Regions from separate parts of the Homo sapiens genome. Here all the other regions are linked to region 4. The links come from fine-mapping of genetic effects on gene expression. A gene starts in region 4. Each other region holds a variant in brackets. All regions are shown on one strand. Distances are from middle to middle. Region 1 overlaps LOC124902563 (a long non-coding RNA gene). Region 2 overlaps VENTX (VENT homeobox). Region 3 overlaps ADAM8 (ADAM metallopeptidase domain 8). Region 4 holds the start of TUBGCP2 (tubulin gamma complex component 2). Region 5 overlaps ECHS1 (enoyl-CoA hydratase, short chain 1). Region 6 overlaps KNDC1 (kinase non-catalytic C-lobe domain containing 1). Region 7 holds the start of CALY (calcyon neuron specific vesicular protein).

Evidence for each region.
Region 1: its variant is fine-mapped to the expression of TUBGCP2 in whole blood (TOPMed, PIP above 0.99).
Region 2: its variant is fine-mapped to the expression of TUBGCP2 in whole blood (INTERVAL, PIP above 0.99).
Region 3: its variant is fine-mapped to the expression of TUBGCP2 in whole blood (TOPMed, PIP above 0.99).
Region 5: its variant is fine-mapped to the expression of TUBGCP2 in whole blood (TOPMed, PIP above 0.99).
Region 6: its variant is fine-mapped to the expression of TUBGCP2 in whole blood (TOPMed, PIP above 0.99).
Region 7: its variant is fine-mapped to the expression of TUBGCP2 in whole blood (TOPMed, PIP above 0.99).

The regions. Positions count from the first base shown.
Region 1 is chr10:133,374,722-133,378,808 of GRCh38, forward strand. It overlaps LOC124902563 (a long non-coding RNA gene), which reads right to left. Exons shown (of 2, transcript XR_007062395.1): 1 at 1,939-4,087; 2 at 15-485. Among named protein-coding and RNA genes, the nearest start is that of PAOX, 2.5 kb to the right of the region's middle. RefSeq lists an enhancer at 3,634-4,087. The variant G/T (reference allele first, on the strand shown) is at 1,592.
Region 2 is chr10:133,238,539-133,242,628 of GRCh38, forward strand. VENTX (VENT homeobox) reads left to right here. Exons shown (of 3, transcript NM_014468.4): 2 at 1,138-1,298; 3 at 1,394-3,390. The coding sequence ends at 1,768. Among named protein-coding and RNA genes, the nearest start is that of VENTX, 2.7 kb to the left of the region's middle. RefSeq lists an enhancer at 1-104. The variant C/A (reference allele first, on the strand shown) is at 1,679.
Region 3 is chr10:133,265,314-133,269,422 of GRCh38, forward strand. ADAM8 (ADAM metallopeptidase domain 8) reads right to left here. Exons shown (of 23, transcript NM_001109.5): 19 at 3,435-3,549; 20 at 2,616-2,805; 21 at 2,039-2,104. Among named protein-coding and RNA genes, the nearest start is that of ADAM8, 9.5 kb to the right of the region's middle. The variant A/C (reference allele first, on the strand shown) is at 2,009.
Region 4 is chr10:133,306,485-133,310,593 of GRCh38, forward strand. TUBGCP2 (tubulin gamma complex component 2) reads right to left here and starts at 2,388. Exons shown (of 18, transcript NM_006659.4): 1 at 2,339-2,388. ZNF511-PRAP1 (ZNF511-PRAP1 readthrough) reads left to right here and starts at 2,430. Exons shown (of 9, transcript NM_001396060.1): 1 at 2,430-2,612; 2 at 2,906-2,979; 3 at 3,292-3,493; 4 at 3,680-3,804. The coding sequence starts at 2,460. ZNF511 (zinc finger protein 511) reads left to right here and starts at 2,430. Exons shown (of 6, transcript NM_145806.4): 1 at 2,430-2,612; 2 at 2,906-2,979; 3 at 3,292-3,493; 4 at 3,680-3,804. The coding sequence starts at 2,460. RefSeq lists enhancers at 1,565-1,794, 2,518-3,213, 2,621-2,915 and a silencer at 2,025-2,874.
Region 5 is chr10:133,360,734-133,364,842 of GRCh38, forward strand. It overlaps ECHS1 (enoyl-CoA hydratase, short chain 1), which reads right to left. Exons shown (of 8, transcript NM_004092.4): 7 at 3,925-3,992; 8 at 1,752-2,200. The coding sequence ends at 2,135. Among named protein-coding and RNA genes, the nearest start is that of FUOM, 4.8 kb to the left of the region's middle. The variant C/T (reference allele first, on the strand shown) is at 2,005.
Region 6 is chr10:133,185,727-133,189,835 of GRCh38, forward strand. KNDC1 (kinase non-catalytic C-lobe domain containing 1) reads left to right here. Exons shown (of 30, transcript NM_152643.8): 6 at 248-948; 7 at 2,813-2,927; 8 at 3,872-3,943; 9 at 4,026-4,087. Among named protein-coding and RNA genes, the nearest start is that of KNDC1, 28 kb to the left of the region's middle. The variant G/C (reference allele first, on the strand shown) is at 1,743.
Region 7 is chr10:133,332,948-133,337,056 of GRCh38, forward strand. All of the region lies in intron 5 of ZNF511-PRAP1 (ZNF511-PRAP1 readthrough), which reads left to right. CALY (calcyon neuron specific vesicular protein) reads right to left here and starts at 3,949. Exons shown (of 6, transcript NM_015722.4): 1 at 3,887-3,949. RefSeq lists an enhancer at 2,204-2,879. The variant A/G (reference allele first, on the strand shown) is at 2,115.

The DNA.
Region 1 (4,087 bases), 68 kb after region 4:
ATTCAAACCAAAAATGAACATGCACCAAAATTTTATTTCAAGACCGAGGGTAAAAATGAAGACATCTCGTGTAAGTAGAAACAAATCAACAACAAACCTCAACAAACCTTTAGTAAACGATGCTCTATACTAGTGTAGTTAAACCTCTGGGACAGACAGGCCCAAAATGAAATGGCTCAGACAGAAAAGAGGTTTATTTCCTTCCTTCCTTCTCCTTCACCTTCTCTTCTTTCCTTTCTTTCTTGTCTCGCTGTCACCCAGGCTGGAGTGCAGTGGTGTCATCCCGGCTCATCATAGCTTGCGCCTCCCGGGTTCAAGCGATTCTCCTGCCTCAGCCTCCTGAGTAGCTGGAACTACGGGTGCTTACCACCATGCCCGGCTAATATTTGTAGTTTTTTAGTAGAGTCGGGAGTTTTGCCATGTTGGCCAGGCTGTTCTCGAACTCCTGACCTCAAGTGATCCACCGGTCTCGGCCTCGCAAAGTGCTGGAATTACAGGAGTGGACCACCGTGTCCGCCAAGAGGTTTCCTTTCTAACGACCCAGGAGGCCGGGCAGCTCCCGTCCTCCATCAAGTAATGTAGCCACAAAAGCACAAGCAACAAAGGGAGAACATATGTAAATTGGATTTCACCAAAATTTAAAACTTTTATGTCTGAAAGGACACTACCAAGATAGTGAGAGGACTGAACAGACATTCCTCCAATGAAGATAATCAGTGTCAGATAAGCTCAGCATCACGAATCATTAGGGAAATGCAAACTGACCCCTCAGTGATACGACGTCACACCTACTGTGCTGGCTGCAATAAAAAGCCCAACAGTCACAGCGGGTTGTGGGGGACGTGAGCGGGGAACGCTGGTACACTGCCAGCGGGAATGGAAAATGGTGCAGTCACTTTGGAAAACAGTCTGTTGTTTCCTCAAAAGGTCAAACAGCAACTCCACTCTTAGGTGTACACCTCAGAGAAATGAAGACAAATGTCCACAAAAACTTAGACATGAACGTTCATAGCAACATTATTCATAATAGCCAAAAAGAGGGAAAAAGCCAATTGTCCATCAACTCATGAATGGATAAACAAAATGTCATATATCCAAACAATGGATACATTAGAATGTATTAGACTATACAATGGACTCTATTCAGGAGTAAAAAAGAAAGAAGCGCTGATACACATTACAAAATGGACAAGCCTTGGAAATGTTATGCTCAGTAAAAAAAGCCAGACACAAAGGCCGTGCATTGAATAGGTTCCATTTCTATGAAATGTACAGAACAGGCAAATCCACAGAGACAGAAACTAGATTAGCGGTCACCAGGGGCTGGAGGGAGGGGTAATGGGGGGGACTGCTGAGGGGCATCCCCATTTGCTTTTTAGGGTGATGAAAATGTCCTAAACTTGGGGCCAGGCGCAGTGGTTCACGCCTGTAATCCCAGCACTTTGGGAGGCCAAGGCAGGTGGATCACCTGAGGTCAGGTGTTCGAGACCAGCCTGGTCCAACATGGTGAAACTCCGTCTCTACTAAAAATACAAAAATTAGCCGGGCGTAGTGGCACATGCCTATAATCCCAGCTACTCAGGAGGCTGAG[G/T]CAGGAGAATTGCTTGAACTTGGAAGGCAGAGGTTGCAGTGAGCCAAGGTAGTGTCACTGCACTCCAGCCTGGGCAACAGAGCAAGACTCCATCTCAAAAAAACAAAACAAAACAAAAAAGTTCTAAACTGGATGATGGTGACAGTGGCACAACTCTGTAACTAAACTGAACACCATTGAATTGAACACTTTAAACGGGAGAAGTCTTACAGCATGATGTCTATATCAATAAAGCTATTTTAAAAAATGAACAAGCCTGATTCAGTCAAAGCCACATGGGTAGTTGCCACCTTGATCACCATAGGTGGCATCACCCAAGGCCCTCTGGAGCTAGGAGAAGCACATACCTTGTACCAGTCAGATGGAAAAGAGGTTGTGTCCGTGTGTTCCAGCTGGTGGCTCTGGCATGGCAGGATTGTCCAGGACTGGCCGTGGTCACGTGCACTCTCCATTTCAGAGCAAGGGGGACGAGCGACTAACCCAGCCCCAGGTCAGCGCGTCAGCGGCCCGTGCTATTGGATTCAGGCTGTGGCACCACATCCAGGGGACAAAGAGCGCGTCGGTTGTCCCCACCCTGCAGCTCTTGGGTCCATGTCTTCTCTCTCCGCGCCATAAAGCCAGAGTTCCCATTTCAGTCACTACAATCACCCCTCCTTGCACCAGGCCTTCCAGGTGTGGGGCATGGGCATGTTTACCTCTGGCCTGTGTGGACCGCTGTGGGGAGGCTTGGCCAGCAAGTTGCTGAGCCAAGTATCTTTTATGGGATCCTGCCGCTCCACAGGAGGATCCGGGAGGCTGAACTAGAGTTAAGTTAGAATCTTTCGGTTCCCCTTCGGGCTGGGCTCCCCGCAGGAACCAGGAACGGGCTGGCCAGGAGGACATGATGGACCGGGAGAAGGTGACAGAGGCAAAGCCAGACCCTTCCTGTTCCATCTTGCAGAGGCTGTCCCAACGCGAGGTGAGGCCAGGTGCCTGGGGGACATCGATGCCTGACCAGAGCCCAGCCTGGACAGCCTTCCAGCAAAGGCTGGGCACTGGCCGACCGTAACGGCCCAGGAGAATGAGGACACGGGAGTCTCGGGGCTGGAGGAGCTGGCTGACCAGATGGTGCCTGACACGGTGCTGAAAACAGGGCAGCAGTCCCCAGAGGCTGAGGGGCCAAAGTAGCCTGTCCACCCAGAGTGGCGAGGCCCACGCCTGTGCAGGAGGCCTGAGGCATGGGGTGGCCTCCCTCACAGCTGTGCCCACCCAGCCTGTGCGCAGGGCGATGTGCTCCTATGTCTGGGCAGTGAGCTGGGCCCTGCGGCGAGAGCAGCAGCAGCTCGATTTCACACGGAGCCACTAGGGAGTGGGCCGTTCCCTTGGCCATACCCGTGGGGGACCCAGTTCATCTGTGGAATTCAGAACCCCAGAGTATTTAATCTGCCATCTCAGGACCTCCGCTGGGGAGCTGGGGCAGGTGGGTGGGTGGTCCCGCTGGGCTTCCGTGGTGCATGCCAGGGACCTCAGAATGGAGCGCCCCACTGAGCCAGCGGCTCTGCTTCAGGCCCAAGAGCAGGGAGTAAGAGAGAAGCCTGCTCAGGCAGAACAGGTGACACTCGTGGCGGGGGCTGCACCCCAAACACTTGCCATCCGACTAAGGGTGTGGGGCAGCCCTTCTTTCCTTAGTCCTGGCATGTCGGGTGGGTCAGCTTGGTGGACAGCTGGCCCTGCTGACCCGGGATCCGCCCTGGGTTCCCCATGGCCTGGAGGCAGGAGGAGATGGCCACTGCATCCAGCGTCGCCTCCTGGTGCTGCGGGCCCCTGACGGACAGAGGACGCTCGACCCCTGCCCGCCACCGCCCAGGGAGTCAGCCCGACTCCCAGGCACCCGCCCCTCTCCCTGCCTGGAGCTCAGCTCGCGGGGTTGGCTAGGGAGTGATGGGGAGTGGAATCCAGCGACACCAGGTCACCCTTCCGGGAGCCTTTTCTCCAGCTGGGACGAGAGGGAATCAAAGGAAAGTAAGACACGGCTCAGGAGGCCCACGCCGAGAGCGAAGAGTGAAGCTCACGCTGGCAAACTGGAGCGCGCGGCCCCTCGGCAGAGGACCGGGGCTCAGGAGGCGGGGACGCGCCTGAAAACAGGGCGGGAGCCTTTCCAACCCCCGCGGGCTGCGATGCAGCAGAAAACTCGGCCGCCTGCACCGGGGATTCTCCAGAAACACAGGCGTGCCTGGGTGTGCGCTCAACTTCCCGGGCGAGGGACGTTTCTGCACTTGCCCTCGGCTTCTGAACTTTGTACTTTGCGAGTGTACTTTGTACTTTGGTCCTGTGTCCCTGCAGCCCTGTGACTACACGCGCACACGCAGGCGCGCGCACACGCGAACTGACGGCTCGCTGGCGATGCTGGAGGCTTTCACAGCCCCCCTCCGGACGCGTTAAGCTCTCCCAGGTCCCACCCCTGACACCGTGGCACCCCCAGACCCACTGCGCCCTCGCACTCGACGCGGGTCCCTG
Region 2 (4,090 bases), 68 kb before region 4:
CCCCGCCCCCCAGCACAGCCGGTGCCTGCTCAGCGTCTAGGCTCAAGCCCATTCCGGGTCACCTGGAGCACAGCTGTCTTTAAAGAGCCTGCAGGTTCGCTGCAGGGGTGGCGGTGACCCCGATGCCTGCAGAAACTCTGAAGTTCCCTCTGTGGCCGCCCAGATGCTCTGTTGTCTGCTGAGAACAAAGGTTCTCTGCGTTTGTGTTTTAGTCTTTGTGACATCATCACCACTTTTAGGTTTAAGGTAGTACTTGGTCAAAAGTGGGGTTGACATCATCTACAAGTTTTCATTTTTAAAAATTTGACTGATCCTTATGGAGTGACTTTGTACTTAAGGGAAATGAAAATTTAAATGTATTCTCCCCAGCTAGCTATCCTGCCCCACCCCAAAAAAGCCAGCCATCCCTGTCCCGCAACCCCCTTTCTGATGCCAGTCCTACAGCCCTCCCTGCCAGAAGGCATTTGCTTTTTGGGTCTACCATGTGCTTTCAGGCTAACGTTAAGACAGATTTTGTAAAATACGCTTCCTTCCGCAGAAACTCCAGCGAGCATTTTGGTCAGACTTGCATTTAATGTCGAGCTCGATTGGCCACGTTGGCCTTTCCTGGGACCCAGACCCAGCTCCACAGACCACCTCGTGGGGCCGTTTGGTGCCAGCCCCCATTCCTTAACTTAGAAATTAGGAAACAGACTTGACCACAGTGGGCCTGGGGATTAACTGAGTTGGCCTCCGCTGGCTGAGGAGACGGAGCCCGGGACAGGGATGGGTGCCCCTGGGTGGGTCGCCAGGCCTTTGCATATAATGGATTCTTACCTTACCGGCCTGGAAGGCTGTGGGAAGGGCATCCTGGGAACCGGCTTCTGGAAGGGAAGTGTGGGATGGGGCGGAACTGAGTGGACTGAGCGGAGGGCAGGCCCAAGCTGCTGTTAACATTCCCTCCCCTCTTGAGCCCCCTCTCTGAGCCCCCTTTCCGCATGTGACCTGGGAGGCGGCGGGGGTGCTGCTGGTCACTGTCAGGTGAGAAGATCTGCCCTGCCCAGCCCCCAGCATGGCTGTCTTCACCTGTTACCCGTGGGCACGAGCTTGCCCCATGGGGTGGCATGTTGAGCCAAATGCCCTTACCCTCTATGTCAGGGTTGAGTAAGGAGCCAAATACCTTGCGGGCCCCCCGTGTCCGCACAGCCTTCACCATGGAGCAGGTCCGCACCTTGGAGGGCGTCTTCCAGCACCACCAGTACCTGAGCCCTCTGGAGCGGAAGAGGCTGGCCAGGGAGATGCAGCTCTCAGAGGTCCAGGTGAGGTGGGCCGGGCAGGCTGGGGTGGGCAGGGGTGGGCAAGGGTGGGCTGGTGGCCTAGTCTCACCCCTGTTCTGATCTTGCTTTTCCTACAGATAAAAACCTGGTTTCAGAATCGCCGCATGAAACACAAACGGCAAATGCAGGACCCCCAGCTGCACAGCCCCTTCTCGGGGTCTCTCCATGCGCCCCCAGCTTTCTACTCAACGTCTTCTGGCCTTGCCAATGGCCTGCAGCTGCTGTGCCCTTGGGCACCCCTGTCCGGGCCCCAGGCTCTGATGCTGCCCCCTGGCTCCTTCTGGGGTCTCTGCCAAGTGGCACAAGAGGCCCTGGCATCTGCGGGAGCTTCCTGCTGCGGGCAGCCTCTGGCGTCCCACCCC[C/A]CTACCCCAGGCCGGCCTTCGCTGGGACCAGCCCTGTCCACGGGGCCCCGGGGCCTGTGTGCTATGCCACAGACGGGGGATGCATTTTGAGGAGGCACCTCTGACTCCCACACTCGCGGTCTTGCTGATCGCACCTGGCTCCTACCTGGAGGACTCAGTTGTTCTGTTTACATCCTGGTGGCACCTCTCACCCTGACCCACACAAAGGTTCTGGAGATTACTGGAGAATATATATAAATATATATATGTACGTATATATGTAAATACACATATACGTATATATAAATATATATATACATATGTGTGTGTATATATATATATATTTTTTTTTTTTTTTTTTTTTTTGAGACGGAGTGTTGCTCTGTCACCCAGGCTGGAGTGCAATGACGCAATCTCGGCTCACTGCAACCTCCGCCTCCTGGGTTCAAGCGATTCTCCAGCCTCAGCCTCCCGAGTAGCTGGGATTACAGACACCCGCCACCACGCCCGGCTAATTTTTTCTATTTTTAGTAGAAATGGGGTTTCACCATGTTAGCCAGGCTGGTCTCAAACTCCTGACCCTGTGATCCGCCCGCCTCGGCCTCCCAAAGTGCTGGGATTACAGGCATGAGCCACTGCACCCGGCCCTGAGAATATATTTATTAAAGCCACCTCTTCACTGAAAGTTACCGAAAGAGTCGGTTTAGGAAGGAAACGAAGGGTCAGTGAACAGAGTCAAATGCAGAAGTGGGCTTGTCATGGGTAGGGCTTTCGGCGTACGATAAAAGGATCATTTGTTTTTTAAAAGGGGTTGGAAAAACTGGTTTTCCAGTTGGAAACAGTAAAGGTTGTAAGCTTTGTGTGTACAAAAGAAAACAGGGAATGCAGGTGTGTTTATAGCGTTGTGGTTCAAGTCCCTCTTAACAAGAACTCCAAAGCTGGAAAGCAGGAGGGAACAAAGGTGAACATGAAGGCGAGGATGCTGGGGCCCTGCAGTGCGCTCTAGGCTGTGCGTGAGCCGGGACTGTACCCACAGCTTGCTGAGGGCTGCTCTTCTTGGGCCAGGGAAAGCAGGGCAGCCGGGACCTGCGGCTGTGCCTGGACTGAAGCTGTCCCGCAGGTCCCCACCCTCCAACACGTGCTCACCTGTCCCCCTGCTCGCAGCAGCCTCGGGACAAAACAATGACTCAAGGACAGCACTTCTTGCAGAAGGTCTGGAAGTGCCCAGAATGGGAGGCACGGAAGCCCCTCCCGGGGAGGACTCCCGCGTTGATGGACCGTTCTTGGTGCAGACTCCTGACTGCGTGCATGAAACCTGAGACAAGTGCAATTCCTTCCATGTCGCCCCAGAGTGCCCAGGAGGCAGGCAGTGCGGGGTGCCCAGGCAGACGGGTTCAGCCTGCAGAACTGGAGGCGACCTGTGAAACCCACCCGGGCACCCCAACAGGAACAGAAGCGTGGTCCTGCGGCTGCGTCCCCAGCGAGTTTCACTTTCCCCTTGCTCGTTTCTCCCTTGTTGTAAGTGTTTACAACTGGCATGTGCTTTTAAACGTCAGGTAAGAGGGGAACAGCTGCTGTACATCGTCCTGGCGAGTGACAATGTGACAGAAGCCTGGGCGAGGCCCTCGGAGGGCAGCAGCTGGACAGGGACTACTGGGTTTGGCCTGGACAGCACTGATTTGTGGATGTGGATGGGGGCACGTTGTCCGTGATAAAAGTACAAGTGCCCCTCACCGCCCGTGGAGATTGCTTTCTGGTCCCCTGTGTGGCCCCAGGCCACAAACCACACCGTCTTGGTCCTGAACTCTCCCGGTGAGTAAGGGCCCTGGCCTGGTGGTGTCTCGAGGTCCTGCCAGCACACTGGGCCCTACAAGGTGGGCAGCCCCTTGGGGCTGAGCTGTGCCTGTTCGGAGGCACACCTGGGCCTCCTTAGGGCCCTGGCTCCATCCTGCAGATGAGGAGCTCTGGAAAAGGGCAAAGTCCCGGAGGCTGAGGAGTGGGGCGGGCTCCAAGTGTCCAGCAGGGACCTAGACCCTGAGTTCTGGGGGATCCACAAGGCCCTCAGGCCCAGGGAAGGCTCTGCCACCCACGACTTCCAAACTTCTCTCCCTGTCCCCCATCCGGGGCTGCAGAGTGAGTTGGCCCAGGCCTCATGGGCTGCTGGTATCTGGGTGGACCTTGAAGACCAAGATGCCCCCAAGCCCTACTCCACCCACCTGCTGCGTCACAGCTGGCCGGGATGCAGTGACCACTCCGCTGGCCTCAGCCTGTTTCCGCTCTCCCCTGGGGGCCTTCCTCACATCCCCACAGCCTGTTTCCGCTCTCCCCTGGGGACCTTCCTCACATCCCCGCAGCCTGTTTCCCACTCTCTTCTGGGGTCCTCTGGCTGACAGCTGGACGTCAGTCCCAGAGTTTGGCAAGTCCTCTGCTCCT
Region 3 (4,109 bases), 41 kb before region 4:
CTGCAGCCTCTGCCCCATATACTGCTATGCCTGGTAACCATAACTTCCTTGGCCAGAAATCTCTCTGCCCCCTTCAGGCCCCCATTTTGCCTGTCCAGACCCCTTCTAGGACTATTTCTGCAACTCACGTACAAGTCTGAAGTTAGTTCAAATAAAAAGTTAAAAAGGAAAGAGAGAAATAGAAAATCACTATTAGGGCCGGGCATGGTGGCTCACGTCTGTAATCCCAGCACTTTGGGAGGCCAAGGCAGGCAGATTACGAGGTCAAGAGATCAAGACCATCTTGGCTAACACAGTGAAACCCCGTCTCTACTGAAAAAAAAAATACAAAAATTTAGCCAGGCATGGTCGCGGGCACCTGTAGTCTCAGATACATTGGGAGGCTGAGGCAGGAGAATGGCATGAACCTGAGAGGCGGAGATTGCAGTGAGCTGAGATCGCGCCACTGCACTCCAGCCTGGGCGACAGAACGAGACTCCATCTCAAAAAAAAAAAAGAGAGAAAATCACTATTAGGCAAACAGCACAGAACAACTATTGCAGCCAATATTCACCAATGGATGCCAAAACTAGTGGGTCCAAGCTTAAGGTTCAAAGAGTCTCAAGGTATCTCCCTGAGGCATCTGCTCACTATAAAAAGAAGACAGGAGCTTTCTAAGGAAAAATCTGTGGACGCTGCTCCAACTAGGCGCTGTGTCAACATCCCCCGTGACCGAAGCTGCATGTGGGCCAGGCCTGGGCTGTGCCTGGGGAAGGGTGTGTCCAGTGCTGCCCCCGCCAACAGTGCAGGGCCCTCATCCACACAAGGAAAGACGGGACAAACCCAGGCTGAGGGACTCTGAAAACACTGCTGGCCACACTTCCAAAGGGCAAGCTGAGGAAAGGCAGAGGGGCCGGGGGCTGAGTGCCTGGGGGGACCATGGCTGGAGAAGGGCGTCCAGAGGGAGCAGGCGGTACTGACTGGGTCGCATTGGTGACGTGGAGCCTCGGCTGCGCGCCCACACTGTGGCCATTCGGGAGCAGGCCAGGCGAAGGGCATGCAGGATTCTCTAGGCTATTTTTGCAACTTTTCTGTAAGTCTAAAATTTGTTCAAAATTAAATGTTAACAAAAAAAAAGCCTCAACCCAGAGGGCAGGGGCTCTCCTGCCCCAGGTCTTCCATGCACAGCCCAGTCCTAGGGCTGACCACGAACCTCTGTGGAGGGGGTCCCCGGAGATGCACCGTGGGACCTCTTCACACAGGCACCTCCCCAGCCCCAGCCTGCCCGCCACCGTCCTGCCCTCTCTGAGGACAGAGGCTGCTCACAATGTCCCGCAATGCCAAGTGGACCTCGATGGTACCACTGGGGCCCCGTGCCAGGCCCCAGAGAGAAAGCCTGGCCCTTTCTGCTGCCCTAGCTGAGTCAGTGGCCCCAGGAAGGGAGCTCAAGGGTCCTTCTCCACCCACTGCCAGAGCGGTTTCCCAGGGCTGAGGCCAATGAGCTGCCCCCACGGGGTCCAAAAAGGGCTCCAAGGTTAGCCCAGAGGTGGGAGCCAGGGCGCAGGGACAGGACCCCAACCCTGGGGGGACACGGAGGCCTGGGAGTTAACCCTCAGCATGCCAGGGCTCCAGTGATTCGGGTTTTGAGAGATCTTTCCAAAACCCCCAAAGCCCCCAAACCCAAGGGAAGCGCGGAACGTGTCCCTGCCCTGAGCCCACCCACCCATCTGTCCTGCAGGGCCCCAGGGAGTCCTCTTCTCTGCCAGAGCTTCAGCTCTGGGAGGGGCTTGGTGGGCGGAGCAGGTCTGAGTGGAAGGAGAAGGAGCCAGGACCCCCAAACCAGCTCCAACGCAGGGCAGGACTGAGCTCCTGCCTTCCTGTGGCCTCGCTGACCTGCCTTTCTGTCTGATGTCCTCACGAGGTCGGGCTAACCAGCCTTCTGTGTACAGCAGGGGCCACCTGGGGATCCCTGGCCCCCGGTGCAGTGCACAGACCCCAATCCCATCAGGAAGGCCTGGACACCCTCAGA[A/C]GGCTTGGCCGCCCAATCACCACTGCTCACCTGCTTTGGTGCCTGCCGGGTGTAGACAGGAACTGGGAAGGGTGGGCTGGACACAGTGACCGGAGGCTGGAGGAGACAGGGCCGAGAGCCTGGGTCAGAGCTGGGACCCCCGTGCCCCTCCAGCACCCCCAGCTCCAGGATCCGAGGTTCCTGCCTCTTGTGTGTGCTGGAGGCGTCTGCGCGGCCCACAGGGCCCCACCCCAGATGAGAGGCCCCGCCCCATTCCTCCCCTCAGCCGTGTGATCCCGAGCTGGGGGCCGGAGAGCATTTGTGTCTCGACACTGTCCTCAGATGGGCTCTGTGGAGGCCAGGAAGCTTCCCTGGGCTGGGAGCCCCCAAGTTTAAGTTCAAGCTCAGATTCTATCATGGCTCAAAGGGGTCTGGGAAGTGCCCACTCCCAAAGCCTCAGTGTTCCCAGCAGGGCGACCACAGCAGCTGCTCTGGGCCTCGGGGCCACCGCTGGCCTGTGCGTGAATTTAATGAAAGGGCTCTGCTGGCCTCGGGCTGCACTTGGGGTCGCAGGATGGGGCCTGGGCACTGCTTTCGGCCTCATGAACCCGCCAGGGGTGGTGCTTACAGCAGGGGGCGGCCTCTTCAGAGCCACCGAGGAGGCCGGGTGTCGGGCGGGCTGGCCCGGGTGGGTGGTGGGGACCAGCTCTTGGGGGCCCCTGGATGGGGCTGGAGCCCCGCCCTTGGCCGGCACGCGGCTGGCAGCCTGGTGGAACAGGGGGTTGGAGCGCCCCATTGTGGTCTTGGGAGCCACGTTCCTGGGGAGGAAGCACAGGGCGCATGGTCAGTGTCCGGCCATGGGGCCCCAGCACCACACCCCGAGTCTCTCCCTCCCAGCTCCAGCCGACCCGAGAGGCTTCAGGGCGAGAGGTTGTGGCCATGAGAGACAGACAGGCCCAGGAGGTGGGGCGGACCCTGAAGAGGCAGGGACACCCCCTCCATGTCCTGGGGGCCCCAGTCAGGTGGGCGGGAGATGCTTGGAGGCTGTGGGGCCAGTGTGTCCTGCTGCGTGGGGGTCTCCTGCTGTGTGGGGGTCCAGGTCCCTAGAGCAGGGCTCAGCAGGAAACTGGCAGGGTGCTCACGGGGCTGGGTCAGGGTATGGGGGACCCCACCGGGCCTCTCTGGATTTGCCCCAAGCCCAACCGGCCACCAAAACCATGCCCCGCCCCAGCCTCAGGGGAAGGTGGAGTCCAGAGTGGCACTGGCCGAGTGGAGCCAGGAAGGCCCTTCAAACTCAGCCCAAGCCGGGGGGCGTCATGACGTCGGGGCACAGAGGAGCCTGGGTGTCCGTGCCGTCCACCATGGGCCCGTGCTGGGCACTCCTTCCTCTGGCAGCTGAGCACGGGAAGCACTCGCCACCCTCCGTCACAGCCCCCACCACCCTCACCTGCTCAGGATGCGGCTCCGGGCTTTGCGGTAGACGATGATGCCTGCCAGGGTGACCAGCACAACTGCCAGGAGCACCAGAACCACCACCACGAAGACGGGGAGGCTCCCGGACGCTGTGGGACACACGGCCCCACATCAGGCAGGCAGGCCGCGACCTCAGGCAGGAGCCAGGGAGGTTCCCAGAGACACGGTCTTTCTCAGCACCCCCAGGCTGTGCCCTGTGGACCCCTCAGGGAGGACCTGGTACCTTACACTGGCACTCCCAGCTTGCCAGTGACAGGTTGGAGAGCTTGGCAGGGTGGCCCTGGGCCACAGTGCTGTGGGCACGGCTGTGCCTTTGAGGCCTGATGCTCTGGACGACCACATGCTCAGTGGCCGCCGGGGAGGAAATGCTGGGTGGCCTCAGGGCCCCGGGCCGAGGAGGGGCTGGAAGACACAGGCTGAGGACACTGGAGTCTCAGCTCACGGCCGTGCCCTGCCCTCGGCCACTGCCTCCCTCTGGGACAGGGCTCTCCCCTCCTCACATCAGCCTGGGGACAGACAGGCTCTGCCTATACCTGTGTGTCGATGCCTGTGGCAGCAAACTGGCACCGTGAACACCACCAGCTTCCCGGGCCCGCGGCTTCTGCCTGGGCTCTGTTCGGGCCCTCTGAGCTTGGACCCCAGCCCCACC
Region 4 (4,109 bases):
AGTATTTATTTAAAAACTACATGCTGGGCACGGTGGCTCACGCCTGTAATCTCAGCACTTTGGGAAGCCAAGGTGGGCGGATCATGAGGTCAGGAGATCGAGACCATCCTGGCTAACATGGTGAAACCCCATCTCTACTAAAAATACAAAAAAATTAGCCGGGGGTGGTGGCGGGCGCTTGTAGTCGCAGATACTCCAGAGGCTGGGGCAGGAGAATGGCATGAACCCGAGAGGCGGAGCTTGCAGTGAGCCAAGATCACACCACTGCATTCCAGCCTGGGCAACAGAGCGAGACTCTGTCTCAAAAAATAATAATAAAAAAAATAAAAACTACCTTCAGGAAACTTCGTATCTCTTCTAGAAATAGAAGCACAGATGCCCGCACGTCATGAGTGTTCATCCCATGAGGAGCCTGCTGCTCTCCCTGAATGTGGGGACCGGGCCTCCAAGAGGGCAGCCCGTACTCGCACAGAGTCCCTCCCCCCAGAAGACCTTTGGAAAAGTCCTAGGGCAACTCTGGGGTGTCACGGTCATGGAAGGGTGCTCTCGCTACTTAGAGGGCAAGGGCGGGGGATGCTAATCATCAACAGAGCTGTCCCGCCAGAAATGCACAGCGTCCCACTGAAAACACAGCTCTGAGGAACATCTAGCCGTGGCTGCTTCTTGGAGGAACGTCTAGCCATGGCCGCTGACTTGGCCTTCTTGATGCTCCTGAATTCTTACTATTAATCACACAAACTGACAGGCCCAGCAACTGTGACTGGGAGGGACTGACGTCCTCCTCACAGAGGCTGTGAGCTACCGCAGGGACGCGTGCTGAGGGAAGCAATGCACGCATGTCACACTCCACCACGGACAAGCGGGGCACACACTCCTAGTGAGCACACACTCCAAGTGATTAAAACACAGAGGGACGTGAAAAAGAGTCTCTGTTGAGAGCTCAAAGCTAACTGTACAAATTGGTTTGAAAAATGTTATTTTACAACTTGTGGAAAATGTCAAGAGCCCAAAGGCTTTTACAGAGACAGAAAGTACAGTCATGCATCACTCAACATTCTGAGAAATGCCTGGCCAACATGGTGAAAACCAGTCTCTACCAAAAATACAAAAATTGGCCAAGCCTGGTGGCGCACACTTGTAATCCCAGCTACTTGGGAAGCTGAGGCACGAGAATCGCTTGAACCCAGCAGGCAGAGGTTGCAGTGAGCCCAGATCGCGCCACTGCACTCCAGCCTGAGCGACAGAGAGAGACACTATCTCCAAAAGAAAAAAAGAGAAACGTATGGTTACATGATTTCCTTCTGTGCGATCATCAGAGTCACTCGCAGACCTGGATGGTGTACGGCCTACAATGCACCTAAACCACCTAGAGGAGCCTCTTGCTCGTGGGCTACAAACCTGCCCAGCAGGTGGCGGTGCTGAACACTAGACAACTGTAACACAGAGATATTTGTGTATCTAAACATGGAAAAAGTACAGGGGCAGGCATGGTGGCTCACGCCTGCAGTTACAGCTCTTTGGAACGCTGAGGCAGCAGGACCACTTGAGCCCAAGAATTTGAGGCCGCAGCGATCTATCAGCTATGATCGCACCATTGCACTCCAGCCTGGGTGACAGACGAGAAAGCTAAAGCCTCTATCCGCCACTGGGCCCATTCTCTGCAGTAGATCTGAAGCGTCCACTGCTTCCCGCGTGTGTTGTCATTCACCATTTTAATTAGGTGACTCTTTACTCTGACGTCTGTCTCTCCTACAAGGCTGCCGCGCCCTCCTGTGATGCCTTCCCCCACACGCCCTGAGCACCTAGCACAGGTCCTGTGTTTCACGGGAGCTGCGGGGACTGGAGAGGTCGACAGGACCCCGACAAACCAGGAAAGGGCCTTTGAACTAAAGTAACGGGAAGTCACCCAAGGGCTTTAAATTAAAAACGGTTACAATAAAACTGGAGTCACTTTGGCTCCAGTTCGCGACTGGTTTAGAGGGAACAAGATCCAGGGACTGCAGCGGGAGACGACAGGCGGGGCAAGGCGGACGGGAGAGGGCGTGCGAGAGGGGGACCTGCGACCCGGCTTCCCAGGGCTGGGAGGGGACACCCGGGACGACCCGGAGGCCCGCTCCGCCCCGCCCCGGCTGAGTGTCGGGCCGCGGGGCAAGACGCTGGCCTGGCCGGTGCAGGCCCGAAGGGCTTCGGCCCCAGAGTTCGGGGACCGCTGCACAGCCAGAGGGAGCGCGCGGGAAGAGCCGCGTCCCGCCAGCCCCGTCGCCTCGTGGGCCCCCCCGGGCCTGGCAGTCCCCCAACCCCCTCATCACGCCCGCGCCCGCGTTCGGCCAGGACTCACCGCAGTCCCGGAGCCACAGCCCCCGCGCAGCCCCCGACGGCGGCGGAAGTGAGCGTGACGTCACGTCCGGCTCGGCTCGCGGACGGTGGCCGACAGGCTGCGCCCGCCCGCGCCCGGGGTGATGCAGTTGCCCCCCGCGCTGTGCGCCCGCCTCGCTGCGGGGCCCGGGGCGGCGGAGCCGCTGCCTGTAGAGCGGGATCCCGCGGCTGGGGCCGCGCCCTTTCGCTTCGTTGCGCGCCCCGTGCGCTTCCCGCGGGAGCACCAGTTCTTCGAGGTGCGTGAGCAAAAGAGGGAAAAAGTAGTTGTAGGATCCAGTGGGGCCTACGGCGGCGAGGCGGGGCCGGAGCCTGGAGTGGGAGGGGCCTACGACTGCGGGGCGGGGCCGGAGCCTGGGACAGGCGGGACCTGAGGTGGTGGGGCGGGGCCGGAACGTGGAGTGGGCGGGGCCTGAGGCTGTGGGGCGGGACCGGAGCGCGGGATGACTGGGGCCACGGGTGTGGGCGAGGCCTGACGCGGTGGGCGTGCCGCGAGTCACCTGGCCCCGCCCACGGCGCACTTTTCCTGCAGGATGGGGACGTGCAGCGCCACCTCTACCTCCAGGACGTGATCATGCAGGTGGCCGACGTGCCTGAGAAGCCCAGGTAAGCGAATGGGCAGTGCCTAGCCAGTGCTACTCCTGCGCCGCCTCCCTGACCGGTGCCTGGTCCCTGGGGCTGTGCTGCCGCTCTTCCATGTGCGGCCGCCCCACCGAGGCGCTGTGCCTGTCCAGCTTTGGCGTGGCCGACTCTTCCACCACCTAGCCTGTTTGTGAAACTTAATTCATAAAAAGAGGGTTTGGGATTGCAAAAGATGCATAGGGGCTTTATTGGACGTCTCAAAGGGAAACTGTGCAGAAAGTCCAGCTTGGTTCCTCGCACCGGAGGAAGGGCTCCTGAAGCACGTCTCCTTGGCAGGGTGCCCGCGTTTGCCTGCCAGGTGGCCGGCTGCTGCCAGGTGTTCGATGCCCTGGACGACTACGAGCACCACTACCACACGCTGCACGGAAATGTTTGCTCCTTTTGCAAGCGGGCCTTCCCTTCCGGACACCTGCTGGACGCCCACATCCTGGAGTGGCACGATTCGCTCTTCCAGATCCTGTCTGAGAGGCAGGACATGGTGGGTGACAACTGCACAGCCGCCGAGGCCACCCCCCATTGGTGATGGGCTCAGAGTGCTGCCCCCAGCTCTCGGGTGCTCGGGCAAGGCCGGGGACACCTTTCCGCCCTTGGCAGCTCTGCTACGGGGGCATGGCGGTGGGGGAGGGCCAGGGGTCAGAGGGAGGTGACACGGTCTCCATTTCAGTATCAGTGCTTGGTAGAAGGCTGCACAGAGAAGTTCAAGACCAGCAGAGACCGGAAGGATCACATGGTGAGGATGCACCTGTACCCCGCGGACTTCCGGTTTGATAAGCCAAAGAAAAGCAGAAGGTAGGGAGCCGCCAGGCTCAGCACGTGTCTGCTTTTGATTTTAGGAAAAGGTTTCCAACTAGCCGGAATGCATAGACGGTCAGACTTATTAAGCACTTGTGTGTCACCTAATGGGGTGTTCACCTGCAGGTACCTGAAGCCCTGGCAACACAGCTACAGGTGGTTGTGCCAGCGGCCACCCTGCCGAAGGGAGGCTGGAGGGGAGCCCCTGGCTGCCCAGCTCTGTGCCGGTGGAGGCAGCAGAGGGGGTGTGGGAATGAGCGGGCGCAGCGCCTCCGCACTCACACCCCTCTGGGCCATGCCTG
Region 5 (4,109 bases), 54 kb after region 4:
CGCTCTCTGGCGTCTGCACTGAGCTGGGGGCAGGTGGGCTTCCCTGGGGGAAATACCTAGAACCAAGGGCATGATGACATGTCCATAGTATGAAACGTCAGGGCCACTAAAAAGAATGTTATAGGACTGTCATTTAGTGAGAAAATCAAATGGTGAAACATGCCACAACAGGCACAAACCTTCTGGACAGTATGTGCCTTAGCTTGGGCTGCTGTGATGCAGTGGCATGGTCTGGGTGGCTGATAAACACTGACTTTCCACAGTTCTGGAGGCCAAGGCTCCAGGCAGGTTCGGTGTGTGATGAGGCCCACCCTGGTTTACAGACAGCACCTTCCCACAGAGCACTCACATTGTGGGAGGGGTGAAAGAGTGCCCTCAGGGCTCTCCTAAGGGCAGTAATCCCACTGGAGGAGCTCCGCCCCCTCATAGGGCACTAATCCCACTGGAGGAGCTCCGCCCTCTCATAGGGCACTAATCCCACTCAAAGAGCTCCATCTTCTCATAGGGCAGTAATCCCACTGGAGGAGCTCCGCCCTCTCATAGGGCACTAATCTCACTGGAAGAGCTCCATCCTCTCATAGGGCACTAATCCCACTGGAAGAGCTCTGCCTTCTCTTAGGGCATTAATCCCACTGAAGGAGCTCCGCCCTCTCATAGGGCACTAATCCCACTCAAAGAGCTCCGCCCTCTCACAGGGCACTAATCCCAAAGAGCTCTGCCCCCTCATAGGGCACTAATCCCACTTGAAGAGCTCTGCCCTCATAGGGCACTAATCCCACTGGAGGAGCTCCGCCCCCTCATAGGGCACTAATCCCACTGGAGGAGCTCCACCCTCTCTCTCCTAGGACACTAAACCCACTCGAAGAGCTCTGCCCTTGTGACTAGTCATTGCCCAAAGTCCCCCCTCCTAATGCAGTCACGGTAGGGGTTAGGATTTCAACCCAGGGATTTGGGGTGGGGCTGAGTGAAATGAGCCTGACCCAAAGGGATAAATGGAGGTCCCTCCATAGAGACAGGAAGTAGAAGCGTGGGTGCCAGGAGCTGGAGGGAAGCAGAAAAGGGGTTGTTGTTTAACGGGGACAGTTTCCGTTTGGGAAAATGAAAGCTTTCTTGGATAGTCATGGCTGCACAACGAGAACGTACTTAATGCCGCTGAAATGTGCATTTGAAATGGTTCAGACCAGCCTGGGCAACACGGGGAAACCCCGTCTCTACAAAAGGTAAATTTAAACAGTCAGCTGGGTGTGGGAGTGCGCCCCTGTGGTCCCAGCTACTTGGGAGGGGGGGAGGATCACTTGAGCCCAGGAGATTCAAGCTGCAGTGAGCTGTGACTGAGCCACGCACTCCAGCCCGTCTCTAAAACACAGTGGTTAAGATGATCAAGTTGACGTCGTGTGTTCCCACAGTAGAGAAGAATGCAGTAAACTGAACAGAGAGCTCCTTATGACAGAAGTAGGAAGAAAATAGGGTGGGCTCTCGTGAGGAAAGGGCTCGACGTGAGTGGGCGTGGAAGAAAACCATAGACCATGCCTGTGCCCGTGTGCAGGGGTGTGTGGGTGCGTGCACAGAACTCTAGGAAGTCACAAGCCCAGCTGTTCACAGTGGCTACCCTGGAAGTATGATGTGAGGCAACTGACTATACAAACTTGTTTTGTTTGAATGTTGTTCCTTACAGTGAAAAAACAAAAAAGTTTAAAAAAACAACTAACATGACAGAATGCTCATTGCAGACATGACTACAAGGCGTGGTGTAATCTGAATCGCTATCACTTTAATCAGCATCTGTATGAAGGCAGCAGACAGCGTTTCCCTCAGAGCAGCCCCATTCTTCAGCGGCAGGGACACAAGGACCCGCAGGCCCCGCTTTCCGTCCGAGCACAGCATGCCCAGAGGGACCAGCGGGGGCTCCTCAGCAGAATCTTAGATTTAGAAGGTGCTCCAGTCAGGACCCTCACAGGCTGGGTGACGAAGGCTGTCATGCCGTGAGAGGTCGGGCCACGACCA[C/T]GCAGCAATTGGAGAGGAACTGCACACCACGGACACTGCTCTTGAAAAGAGGATGATTTACTTGCTTCTAAAACTGACAGGCTGCACTTGTCCTCTCCAAGCAGAGGTGTGAAGCAGGGGCAGCTGGTTCTCACTGGTCTTTGAAGTTGGCCTTTCTCTTTTCCACAAACGCGGTCATCCCTTCTTTCCGGTCATCCTGGCAGGAAAAGGAACAGAAACAGAGCTGGACGCGCAGTATCCTCACAGAGCCTGATGCCAATGTCCGCCCGTCTCTCCCTGGCTCTGCCTCACTCATGCTCACAGGGGCCCAGGGGGCCGGGGAGGGGACTCAGCGGCAGGAACACCTGCCCAATCAGAGCTGGGCCTGGGCGCGGGGATTTTCACGGCCTCTCTCTACCAGTCTAGGTGACGGTCATTCAGGAGCCACTGTGTATGTCCAACAAGCTCACATCTAAAGAGCCTCAGATGCACCCATCTTGGTCACTCACCATGTCATCAACTGGATGATGGGTGGCCTGTATCAGGGGCTACTCTGTGTTGGAGTAGGACGTGAGAACTCAACTCTGCATCTGCTTTTCTTACACTGTGTGCACGTGTGTCCCCAGGTGTGCGCGCGCGCACACACACACACACACACACACACACACGCATCTGTACCCCTTCCTCAGGTGCCCAAACCACTTTTAATTTTTATTTTATAGAACAATTAAAACACCGAAGTATGACTTTCTCCCAGTGAAAGACATGAATTAAAATGGTAATCTGGCCGGGTGCAGTGGCTCACGCCTATAATCCCAGCACTGTGGGAGGCCGAGGCAGGCAGATCACTTGAGGTCAGGAGTTCAAGACCAGCCTGGCCAACATGGTGAAACTCTGTCTCTACTAAAAATACAAAAATTAGCCAGGTGTGGTGGTGGGCACCTGTAATCCCAGCTACTCGGGAGGCTGAAGCAGGAGAATCACTTGAACCCAGGAGGTGGAGGTTGCAGTGAGCTGAGATCTCACCACTGCATTCCAGCCTGGACGACCGAGCAAGACTCTGCCTCAAAGGGAAGAAAATTAAAATTATGATGGTAATTAGAGGAATTACTTTAAGTTACTGGCAGAAATCTTATAAAATATTGCTCTAAAGCTTCAGCTTATCTTATTAGAATACATTTGAGCCTATTCCAAATAATTGGAATGATCTAAAAAAACATGGGTAAAATGAGTTACATTTTTTTTTTCAGACAGAGTCTCACTCTGTCTCCCAGGCTGGAGTGCAGTGGCGTGATCTCGGCTCACTGTAATCTCCGCCTCTGGGTTCAAGCGATTCTCCTGCCTCAACTTCCAGAGTAGCTGGGATTACAGGCACCTGCCACCACGCCCGGCTAATTTTTTGGATTTTTAGTAGAGACGGGTTTCGTCATGTTGCCCAGGCTGGTTTCAAACTCCTGAGCTCAGGCAATCCACCCGCCTCAGCCTCCCAAAGTGCTGGGATTACAGGGTGAGCCACCGCGCCCGGCCTCATTTTTTAAAAAAGTCTTTTTTTTGAGACGGGGTCTTGCTTTGCTGCCCAGTTGGACTCGAACGACCCGCCTCAGCCTCCCAGGAAGCTGGGGCTACGGATGCTCGACACCCACCCGGCTGAAACTGCATTTTCAATAAAGGAGCTGCTTGAGGGTGCAATTCACAGACCTCACATAACAGGAAAAACAAGAAAAGCCCCTGTAAGGTTTCTGTACTTTTGAACTTGTACATGCTCTACTTTTTTCCTAACATCAAGACCCACTGATGGAACCAATCTGATCCCGTTAAAGGTGAGGCTGGCAGTTCTGACCAGAAAGAAACGATACTTAATGATAAAATTTAAAAGGAAATTCCCAGCAACTTGTGTGACTGGAATTTGCTTGATTCTCCGGTTGAACACTGTTTACTCACAGTGGCAAAGGTTGAATAAAAGAGTTTCTTCTCCAACTTACTTCCTTCTGTTAATGTCATTTCAAAAGCTGAAAAACAAAGTCCCAGAGTTATGAACGGAGATATTACATGCAGAACTTTTCCTGCACGGTGACAGGAAGCCCTCCTCACTGACCCATGCACAACTGTGCTTTCGACGTGGCCCA
Region 6 (4,109 bases), 120 kb before region 4:
AGCCCCAGCCTCTAATTAGCCAGGATGACCTGATGAGTGGGGCAGGAGAGGAAGGCGGGAGCCCCCTCCTGTGAGAGCCTGGGTTGGGGTCTGTGATCGTGGGAGGGGAGGAGAGGGGAGGGGAGGGGAGAGGTGGGAGGGGAGGGGTGGGAGGAGAGGGGAGGGGTGGGAGGAGAGGGGAGGGGCGGGAGGAGAGGGGAGGGGCGGGAGGGGCACCCAGCCGTGACCACATCTTGCTTGTGCCCAGATGTCAGCGAGAGCAGCTGGCGGGAGAGACCTGCCCCAGGAAACGCTGGGCCCAGGAGGCCGCCCGGGGACCCCAGCACTGACCCGGAGGTTCTGCCGACCCCCGAAGGCCCGGAGTCTGAGACGAGCCGGGGCCCCAGAGCCTCCCCAACCAAGGCTCTGCTGTCCACCCCGGTGAGAAATGGCGAGAGCCACAGCCGGGAGGGGCTGGCCGGCCTCGTCCTGGATGCCGAGCGCACCCTCGGGGAGCTGGACAGAGACGCCCTCAGGAGAAGCCGCCTGCGGAAGGTGCAGACGTTCCCTAGGCTGCTGTCCGACAGCCCCGAGGCCACCCTCTGCCTGCCGCTGACCCGCGGGAAAAGCCAGCTGCCCATATCGGAATTATTCTCTCCGGACCCCAGGAAGGCCTTTCTGGACAGGAAAAATGGCCTTTCTAGCTTCCAGGCTCAGCCCAAATGCAGGCTGTGGCCGGAGCAGGAGCCGGAACACCAGCTGGGACGGGTTCCCTGTGCAGGCCGCAGCACGGACAGGGGCCCTGGGGTGCCCGGCAGTCCAGGACAGCCCGAGACTTCACACCCCAGCCAGGGGCCAGCAGAGGCCCCTGCAGACCCTCGAGATGCTAGCGGTGAAGCCCAGACTCCCAGGGACGATGAGAGAATTCCAGAAGGAGCTAGGCAGCTGGAAAGTGCAGCCGCGGAGCAGGTGGGTGCCTGGGTCTTGTGTGTGGGTGGAGGGGTCGGCGGTCAGTGAGTCCGGGGCCGGGCCTCTCCACAGATGCAAACGCTTTGTTTAACTCAGAGAATTAACCTTCACCCTCGCTCCATAATTAAAGACATTTTCATTGAGCTGCCCCGTTTCTGAAGGAAGCTGTGGCTGCGGCTGGGGATGCTGTCACCCAGGCGTGGCCTCTCGGGTAGACGTTTGCCTCTGGATGACCCAGAAAGCAGCCGCCTCCTCAGCCCTGCCCGGCTCCTCACACAGCCCCGCACGGCCGTCCCGAGGGATTAATTTTCTTCCGGGAAGCAAGGCCAGCAGCCCCGGCTCCGTGATGTCATTTCAGGGGCTCCGTGTCCCCAGTCCTGATGCTCACAGCCCTCCTCATCTTCCTATTCTGACGGTTTAAAAGTTAGAAACCAAAGCTGTGGGTTGAGCTTGCTCATCTGTGGGGCTTGGTGGTGTCGGTGCTGGGCCACCTCCGCTGCCTCCGCGGGGACGCTGGGATCTGGTGCGGCTGCCCGGACGTGGCCTCCACACAGGATGGGGCCTCCCCAGCCCAGTGCTGCCCCTGGTCAGCTGCTCCTCACGAGGGATGGAGGATGCTGTTGGAGCCAGTGTTCTGGGGGGCCTGGTCCGTCGGCCCCTCTGTCCAGCCGAAGACGCTTGGGCCAAGGCCTGGCCAAGTGCATTTTGCCCTCCTTGGCTCCTCAGTGAGCCACCCCCAGCTGTGTCCCCGTGAGCTCCTCCGGGCAAGGTCACCTGAAGTCAGTGGCCTGCAT[G/C]CAAGTCCATCTGCCAGGCAGCGCCTGGCCCGGGGACGGGGGTGCCCTCAAGCCACCAGGCCTCGTTGATCTGAAGGACAAGGGCGCAGTGCCCCGTCGCCCTCCACCACTCTCCCTGGCGGCACGCCTTCCCACGCACAACAGCCTACCTTCCCGAAGGGCACACGGAGGCACAGGGTGGCCGAGCCACCTGTTGGAGGGTGGACTTTGGTCCCAGCTGTCCGTGAGGCCTTGGAGTGGAGAGTGGCCTCCCAGGCTGAACGCATGCCTGGTGTCACGGTGTGTGTGTATGTGAGAAAATGCACCGAACAAAAGCCACCACTTCAACCCTCTGCAAGAGCACAGCTCAGCGGCATTGGGTGTGTTCACGCTGTTGCACAGCTGTCCCCATCAGCCCACACGAAACCCCAACCCCCGAGCCCGCCCCCTGCACCCCGTCCCGCCCTCCACCTCCATGAGCCTGGCCCCTGCACCCCGTCCCACCCTTCCCCTCCATGAGCTCTGTCCAGGGGCCTCGTGGGAGTGGGATGGACAGAGCTGTGTGTCTGGTCTCTTCACTGAGCCCACTGTCCTCACGGTTCCTCCCCAGGGAGCCTGCGTGAGAACCCCCCATCCCTGTCCCGAGGCCAAGCGCCATCCACACTGCCCCTGCGTCCGTCCGTGGATGCCTGGGTGCTCCCCGTGTTGGCTATTTCGAGCCGTGCTGCTGGGAACATGGGTGTGCACGTATGCGTGAGCCCTGCCCTCGGTTCCTCGGGGAATGTGGCCGTGTGGAACTGCTGTCACCTGGGAGGTGTATGTTGAGCTTTTCAAGGAACGGCAGCACTGTCGTCTGCAGTGGCTGCACCGTGGGACGTTCCCACCCACAGGGCCAAGGGCCCCAGTCTCCCCACGGCCCCCACACGCTGGAGTTGACTTAGGGACCTCCCTAGCCCTTCTATCAGGTGTGGGGGGCGCCTACTCAGGGGCTGAGTGGGCCTCACCCTGGCCTGTCCCCCGGACATGCCTCTCCAGGCGGCGGGCCCTGGCAAGGGGTGTCCACACTGACCTCGCCGCTCTCCTGCCCACAGTGGGTGTCCCTGCAGGACCTCCTGTCCCAGCTGGGCCGGCCCTTCCGGGAGTACGAGCTGTGGGCCCTGTGCCTGGCCTGCCTCCGCGCACTGCAGACACGCCCTGAGCACCCAGGTGACGCACGCACCATCCCATCCCCCCCGCCGTCCCCACCCCCCACTGCTGTTCCACCCCCCACCGCCGTCCCACACCCCCGCCGTCCCACCCCCCACACCGTCCCACGCCCCCCCACTGTCCCATCACCCCTGCCGTCCCATGCGTAACTGGCCCCCACCTGAACCAAGGGACCCAGGGGCAGCCAGGACAGTGTCTCCGGTGAACGGAACAGGCGGCTCCCGTCTGGAGCACCTTGTGGGTGCCTGCTGGGTTGCAGCACCGAGGGAGGTGTGGGGACAGATGCCTGCAAGGTGGGCCTTGAAACCGGTGACTGTGCCGTAAAGAGGAACGGGGACTTTGCCATGGCCCTCGCCCACACATTCTCAACACAGTGACATTGTCCCCAGGGAGGCAGCAATTGGCTTTGGAGTGGGGAGGGAATCTTCAGCATTGCACGGGTCTGCCCCGTCAAAGCCTAGCCCTGCCAGACATCAGGGCAGACGGACGGTGCATCTGAGACGTAAAAACGTCCTGGGGGTGATGAGGGCAGCATCTGAAAGGGCTGGGGGAGAGGCCATCGGAGACACACCCGGCTCCAGTGTCCGTCCACCGTGAGCCCGTGGCTGCCCCGTGGGCCCTGACTCGGGACGGGGCCTGTGACACGGGGGCTTCAAGTTACCGTGTTCTCCCTGCCGCTTGGCTCCCTTTCAGCCGCAGATATGCCGCTGCAGCCACTGTGTCGGCTGGGGCAGCGCTACCCTCGGGGAGGGCTGGGAGGAGGCAGCTCCGAGGACCCCGGGGGCTGGGGTCAGGCCATGTGCGTGCACTGGCAGGTGCGTGCCCGTGCAATGGGGAGGCTGGGGGGCTGCCCGGCCTGACTGAGGCTCCGCAGCTCCTTCCCCCCAGCCAGCCCCAAGTGCGGGGCAGCATGCATACCCGCCCTGACCCAAGCTCTGCCACAGCCTACCTGTGTCTGGACTCCGTGCTGGTTGCTGAGGACGGGGCTGTGCTCTTCCAGCCACCCCCTGCCAACGGTGAGTGTGTGGGTTCCCCTCAGGCCGAGTCCAGCACCGGCTCGCCAGGGGTGAGGAAAGCTCAGTCGGGTTTCTCTCTTAGGTTCCTATGACTCGTTCTTTCTGGCTCCCGAGCTGGCAGAGGAGAGGCTGGTAACTGAAAAGGTACCCGGGCCCTCCCCACCCT
Region 7 (4,109 bases), 26 kb after region 4:
ATTTTGGACTTCTTGACTCCAGAACTGTGAAAGAATTTGTTATTTTAAGCCACCTGCTTGTAATTTGTGACAGCAGCGCGAGGATGTCCAATTAACTGCCAGAGCCAGCAGTGACCAGTCTTTCTCGCCCTGCAGTGGCCAGGCTCCGCTGTGGGTTCCAGGTGTGGGTAGGCACCACGGGAACAGGAGCAAGGGACCCGCGGTCACAGAGCTTCTGCCCAGCTGCTGCCACTCAAGTACAGATAATGTGGAGGCATCTGCGTGGAGGAGAATCTAAGGGTGGAAGGAGCTGAGGGTGGAATGATTGCAAGGTGGAAGGATCCGAGGGAGAAGGATTGAGGGGGTGGGGGGGGGGGAAGGATCCGAGGGGTGAGGGATCCAAGGACAGAGGGACCCAACGGGGAAGGATTGCGCGGGTGGGGGTGGGGTGGAGGGGAGGGATCCGAGCGGAGGGGTCCGAGGGTGGAACGATCTGAAGGGAAGGGACCCCAACGGGGTGCGGGGAGGGATCCGAAGGGGTAAGGATATGACGCGGGGGGAAGGATCCGACGCAGGGGGAGGGATCCGAGGGTGGAAGGATCTGAGGGGGGAAGAATCCGACTTGGGGAACGATCCAAGTGGGGTAGGATCCCAGGTGGGAAGGGTCGGAGAGCGGAGGTATCTGAGAGGGAGGGCTCTGAGGGGGAAAGATCTGAGAGTGGAAGGCTCTGAGGCGGAAAGATCTGAGAGTGGAAGGCTCTGAGGGGGAAAGAAAGATCTGAGAGTGGAAGGCTCTGAGGGGGAAAGATCTGAGAGTGGAAGGCTCTGAGGGGGGAAGGATCTGAGGGGGGAAGGCTCTGAGGGGGGAAGGATCTGAGGGGGGAAGGCTCTGAGGGGGGAAGGATCTGAGGGGGGAAGGCTCTGAGGGGGGAAGGATCTGAGGGGGGAAGGCTCTGAGGGGGGAAGGCTCTGAAGGGGAAGCTCTGAGGGGGGAAGGATCTGAGCGGGGAAGGCTCTGAGGGGGGAAGGCTCTGAAGGGGAGGCTCTGAGGGGGGAAGGACATGAGGGGGAAGGATCTGAAAGGCGAAGGATCTGAGGGGGGAAGGATCTGAGCGGGGAAGGCTCTGAGGGGGGAAGGCTCTGAGGGGGGAAGGACATGAGGGGGAAGGATCTGAGGGGCGAAGGATCTGAGGGGGGAAGGCTCTGAGGGGGGAAGGCTCTGAAGGGGAAGCTCTGAGGGGGGAAGGACATGAGGGGGAAGGATCTGAAAGGCGAAGGATCTGAGGGGGGAAGGATCTGAGCGGGGAAGGCTCTGAGGGGGGAAGGCTCTGAGGGGGGAAGGACATGAGGGGGAAGGATCTGAAAGGCGAAGGATCTGAGGGGGGAAGGATCTGAGCGGGGAAGGCTCTGAGGGGGGAAGGCTCTGAGGGGGGAAGGCTCTGAGGGGGGAAGGACATGAGGGGGAAGGATCTGAAAGGCGAAGGATCTGAGGGGGGAAGGATCTGAGCGGGGAAGGCTCTGAGGGGGGAAGACTCTGAAGGGGAGGCTCTGAAGGGGAAGGACATGAGGGGAAGGATCTGAGGGGCGAAGGATCTGAGCGGGGAAGGCTCTGAGGGGGGAAGGCTCTGAGGGGGAGGCTCTGAGGGGGAAGGACATGAGGGAGAAGGATCTGAGGGGCGAAGGATCTGAAGGGGGAAGGATCAGGGGAGGAAGGATTTGGAGGTGGCAGCTTCTGCGTGGGGAAAGAACTGAGGGGGAAGGATCTGCGTGGGCGAGAGTGCGGCCGGTGAACGAGGGCTGGGTAGGGGATGGGGGAGGCCACTCTGAGCCGGAAGGAGCTAGGCGAGGGGAGACAGGGCCCCCAGTCCTGGACCTGGCCACGCGCTTTGGGGCCCTAACCCGTGCCCCTCGTTGTTGTGTGTTCATCGCAGGCGACCCTGTGCCTGCCGGGCCTTTCTGGAAGAGGCCGTGCGGTGTCCCCCAGACCACCCACCCCGGGCTGAAGACTCTTCCTGAGGTGGGTTCCCACGTGGCCCGGGCAGGGGCAATGGGCACTCGGCGGGCGAGGTTTCACGGTGCAGCCAGCGTCCGTGTGTGTGCAGGCGGAGACGGACGAGGCGCCACGGGGCTCAGAT[A/G]CAGGAGCGATCGGTGGAAGCAGAGTCGGAGCAGCGGAGGGCCGAGAGGCCGGGGAATGACGTGGTTGTGGGGCGAGGGCAGCCAGCGCCGGGGCTTGAGGTGGAGCTTGGCCCGCGGGGGTGGGGGTGCCGCTGAGGAGGAGGGGTCGGGGGTCTCCCCGGAGCGGACGCCCAGAGCAAGCCCAGCCTCTCTACAGACGGGCGAGGGGGAGGCGGAGAAGGGGGCGCAGTCCCGCACCAGGGCCCGCAGCGCCATAGGGTAGGGCCACGCCCCGGAGGGCCCGCGCCAGGAGTCTCCGCCCGAACCCCCGCTCGGGCAGGACCCCCGCCAGGAGGAGCTGCGCTTGAGGGGTCCCCTTCGAGCCAAACTTCAAATCCAACTCCTCGGACGGCCAATTTACGTCATCGCGGGTTTCCATGGCAACGCAGACAGGCCCGAGACGCGTCTTCAGGAAGAAAAAGCCATTGGGGGCCCACTGGAGCCTCGCTTCTGGTTCCGGGCCCAGCGCCCCGGGCGGAATGCGGGGTTGGAAAGGGGGGACTAGCCTGTGTGTGGGGTCCAACCCCCCCACCCCACACACCAGACCTTCCCTTTGCATTGCTGCGTCATGGGGGCCTCCTCCCACGGATGACACGCGGCTCGTGGAACTGGGGGGCCGCCTCTGCTTCTCCTCCCGGCCCCTCCCTGCACCTGCGCTGTCGCGGCATCTTCTGCGGGTCCCCTGCGCCCCACCCGCCGCGCTCTGGCAGGGAGGCAGTGCCCGGCTCCTGTCTCTGGGGCGGGGAAGGCGTGGGATGCTGATGGCAGATGGGTGGGGGCGCGGGTGAGTGAGGCCGTGCAGATGGACAGATGGATGGCGGGGGCGGGGGTGCAGGCTCTCAGTCGAAAGTCCACGGAAGCTCGGCTGGAGGTCACGTCACAGACTCGCTTCCGCATGCGCCCCCCCCAACCATGGAATGCTGCGTCACGCTGGGGGGTGCGCGCAGGTGGGCTTGTGCGGGCCGGGCACCAGCGCGTGTGACTGCGGATCTGAGGGTCCCGCCCAGCCCCCGCGGGCGCCACCGCAGCCTCCCGCCCCTGGCGCTGCAGGGGGCTGTGGCTGCCCCGCTTATTAAAAGGCAGCTGCACTGCGGGGTCGGCGCAGCCCCTCGGAGGGGAGTGGGCGCGCAGCTGCTCCCGCTTCCAGCCCAGCCACCTGTGGCCCCGCACCCGAGCCTGCTGCAGGTGGTTCCGGAGCCGCGCCCCTCCCGGCCTCCTGGCCACCTCTTGCCTGTCACGCAGACGCCCCCATCAAGCCCACCGCCCACCCCCAACCCCCGTGCGGGCAGCGGCTCCTCGGTGCTCTGGTCCGACGCCCCTTCTGTCGCCCTCCCCACCCCGCCTCCGGCGGACAGAGCTGGGCGGGAGCTGGGACTGGTACCCCCTCCCCACCTCGGAGACACCCTTAACTCCAGGCTGCGATCCTCGTGCCGGGGCCCCGCCGTCACGGGAAGCCTGGAGACCACCGCCCTCGGGTCCGCGGGGTCGGACTGGCCTGGGGCAGCCAGAGGAGGCCCGAGGGAGGAGGGCGGCCGTGCAGCGCGCCCTGCACACTCGCACCCGCACACGCGCCTCGCACACACGCACTCACACCCTCATCCGCACGCGCGCCACGCACAAGCGCACTCGCGAGCACACGCACCTCGCACACACACCCGCACACGCGCCTCGCACCCCCGCACCCCTTCGGGCCCCCCGCCCACATTCTGCAAGAAATGTGGAAATAGCTCACAGGCGGCTCCACTGGCAGCTGCTGCAGGACGCGGTCGGGGAGGACGACGATGCGGATGTGGATGCGGAGGATGCGGTTCCAGACGCTTCGCGGCCGGGCGGGGCGGGGGCTGCAGCTGCGAGACCGAGGCTGTGGTCGCCATGGAAACGCGGCTAGAGGCGGGGCCTCGACTCTGGTCCCGCACCCTCTACCCCCACCCACCGCCCCGGCTAGGGAGCCGCGC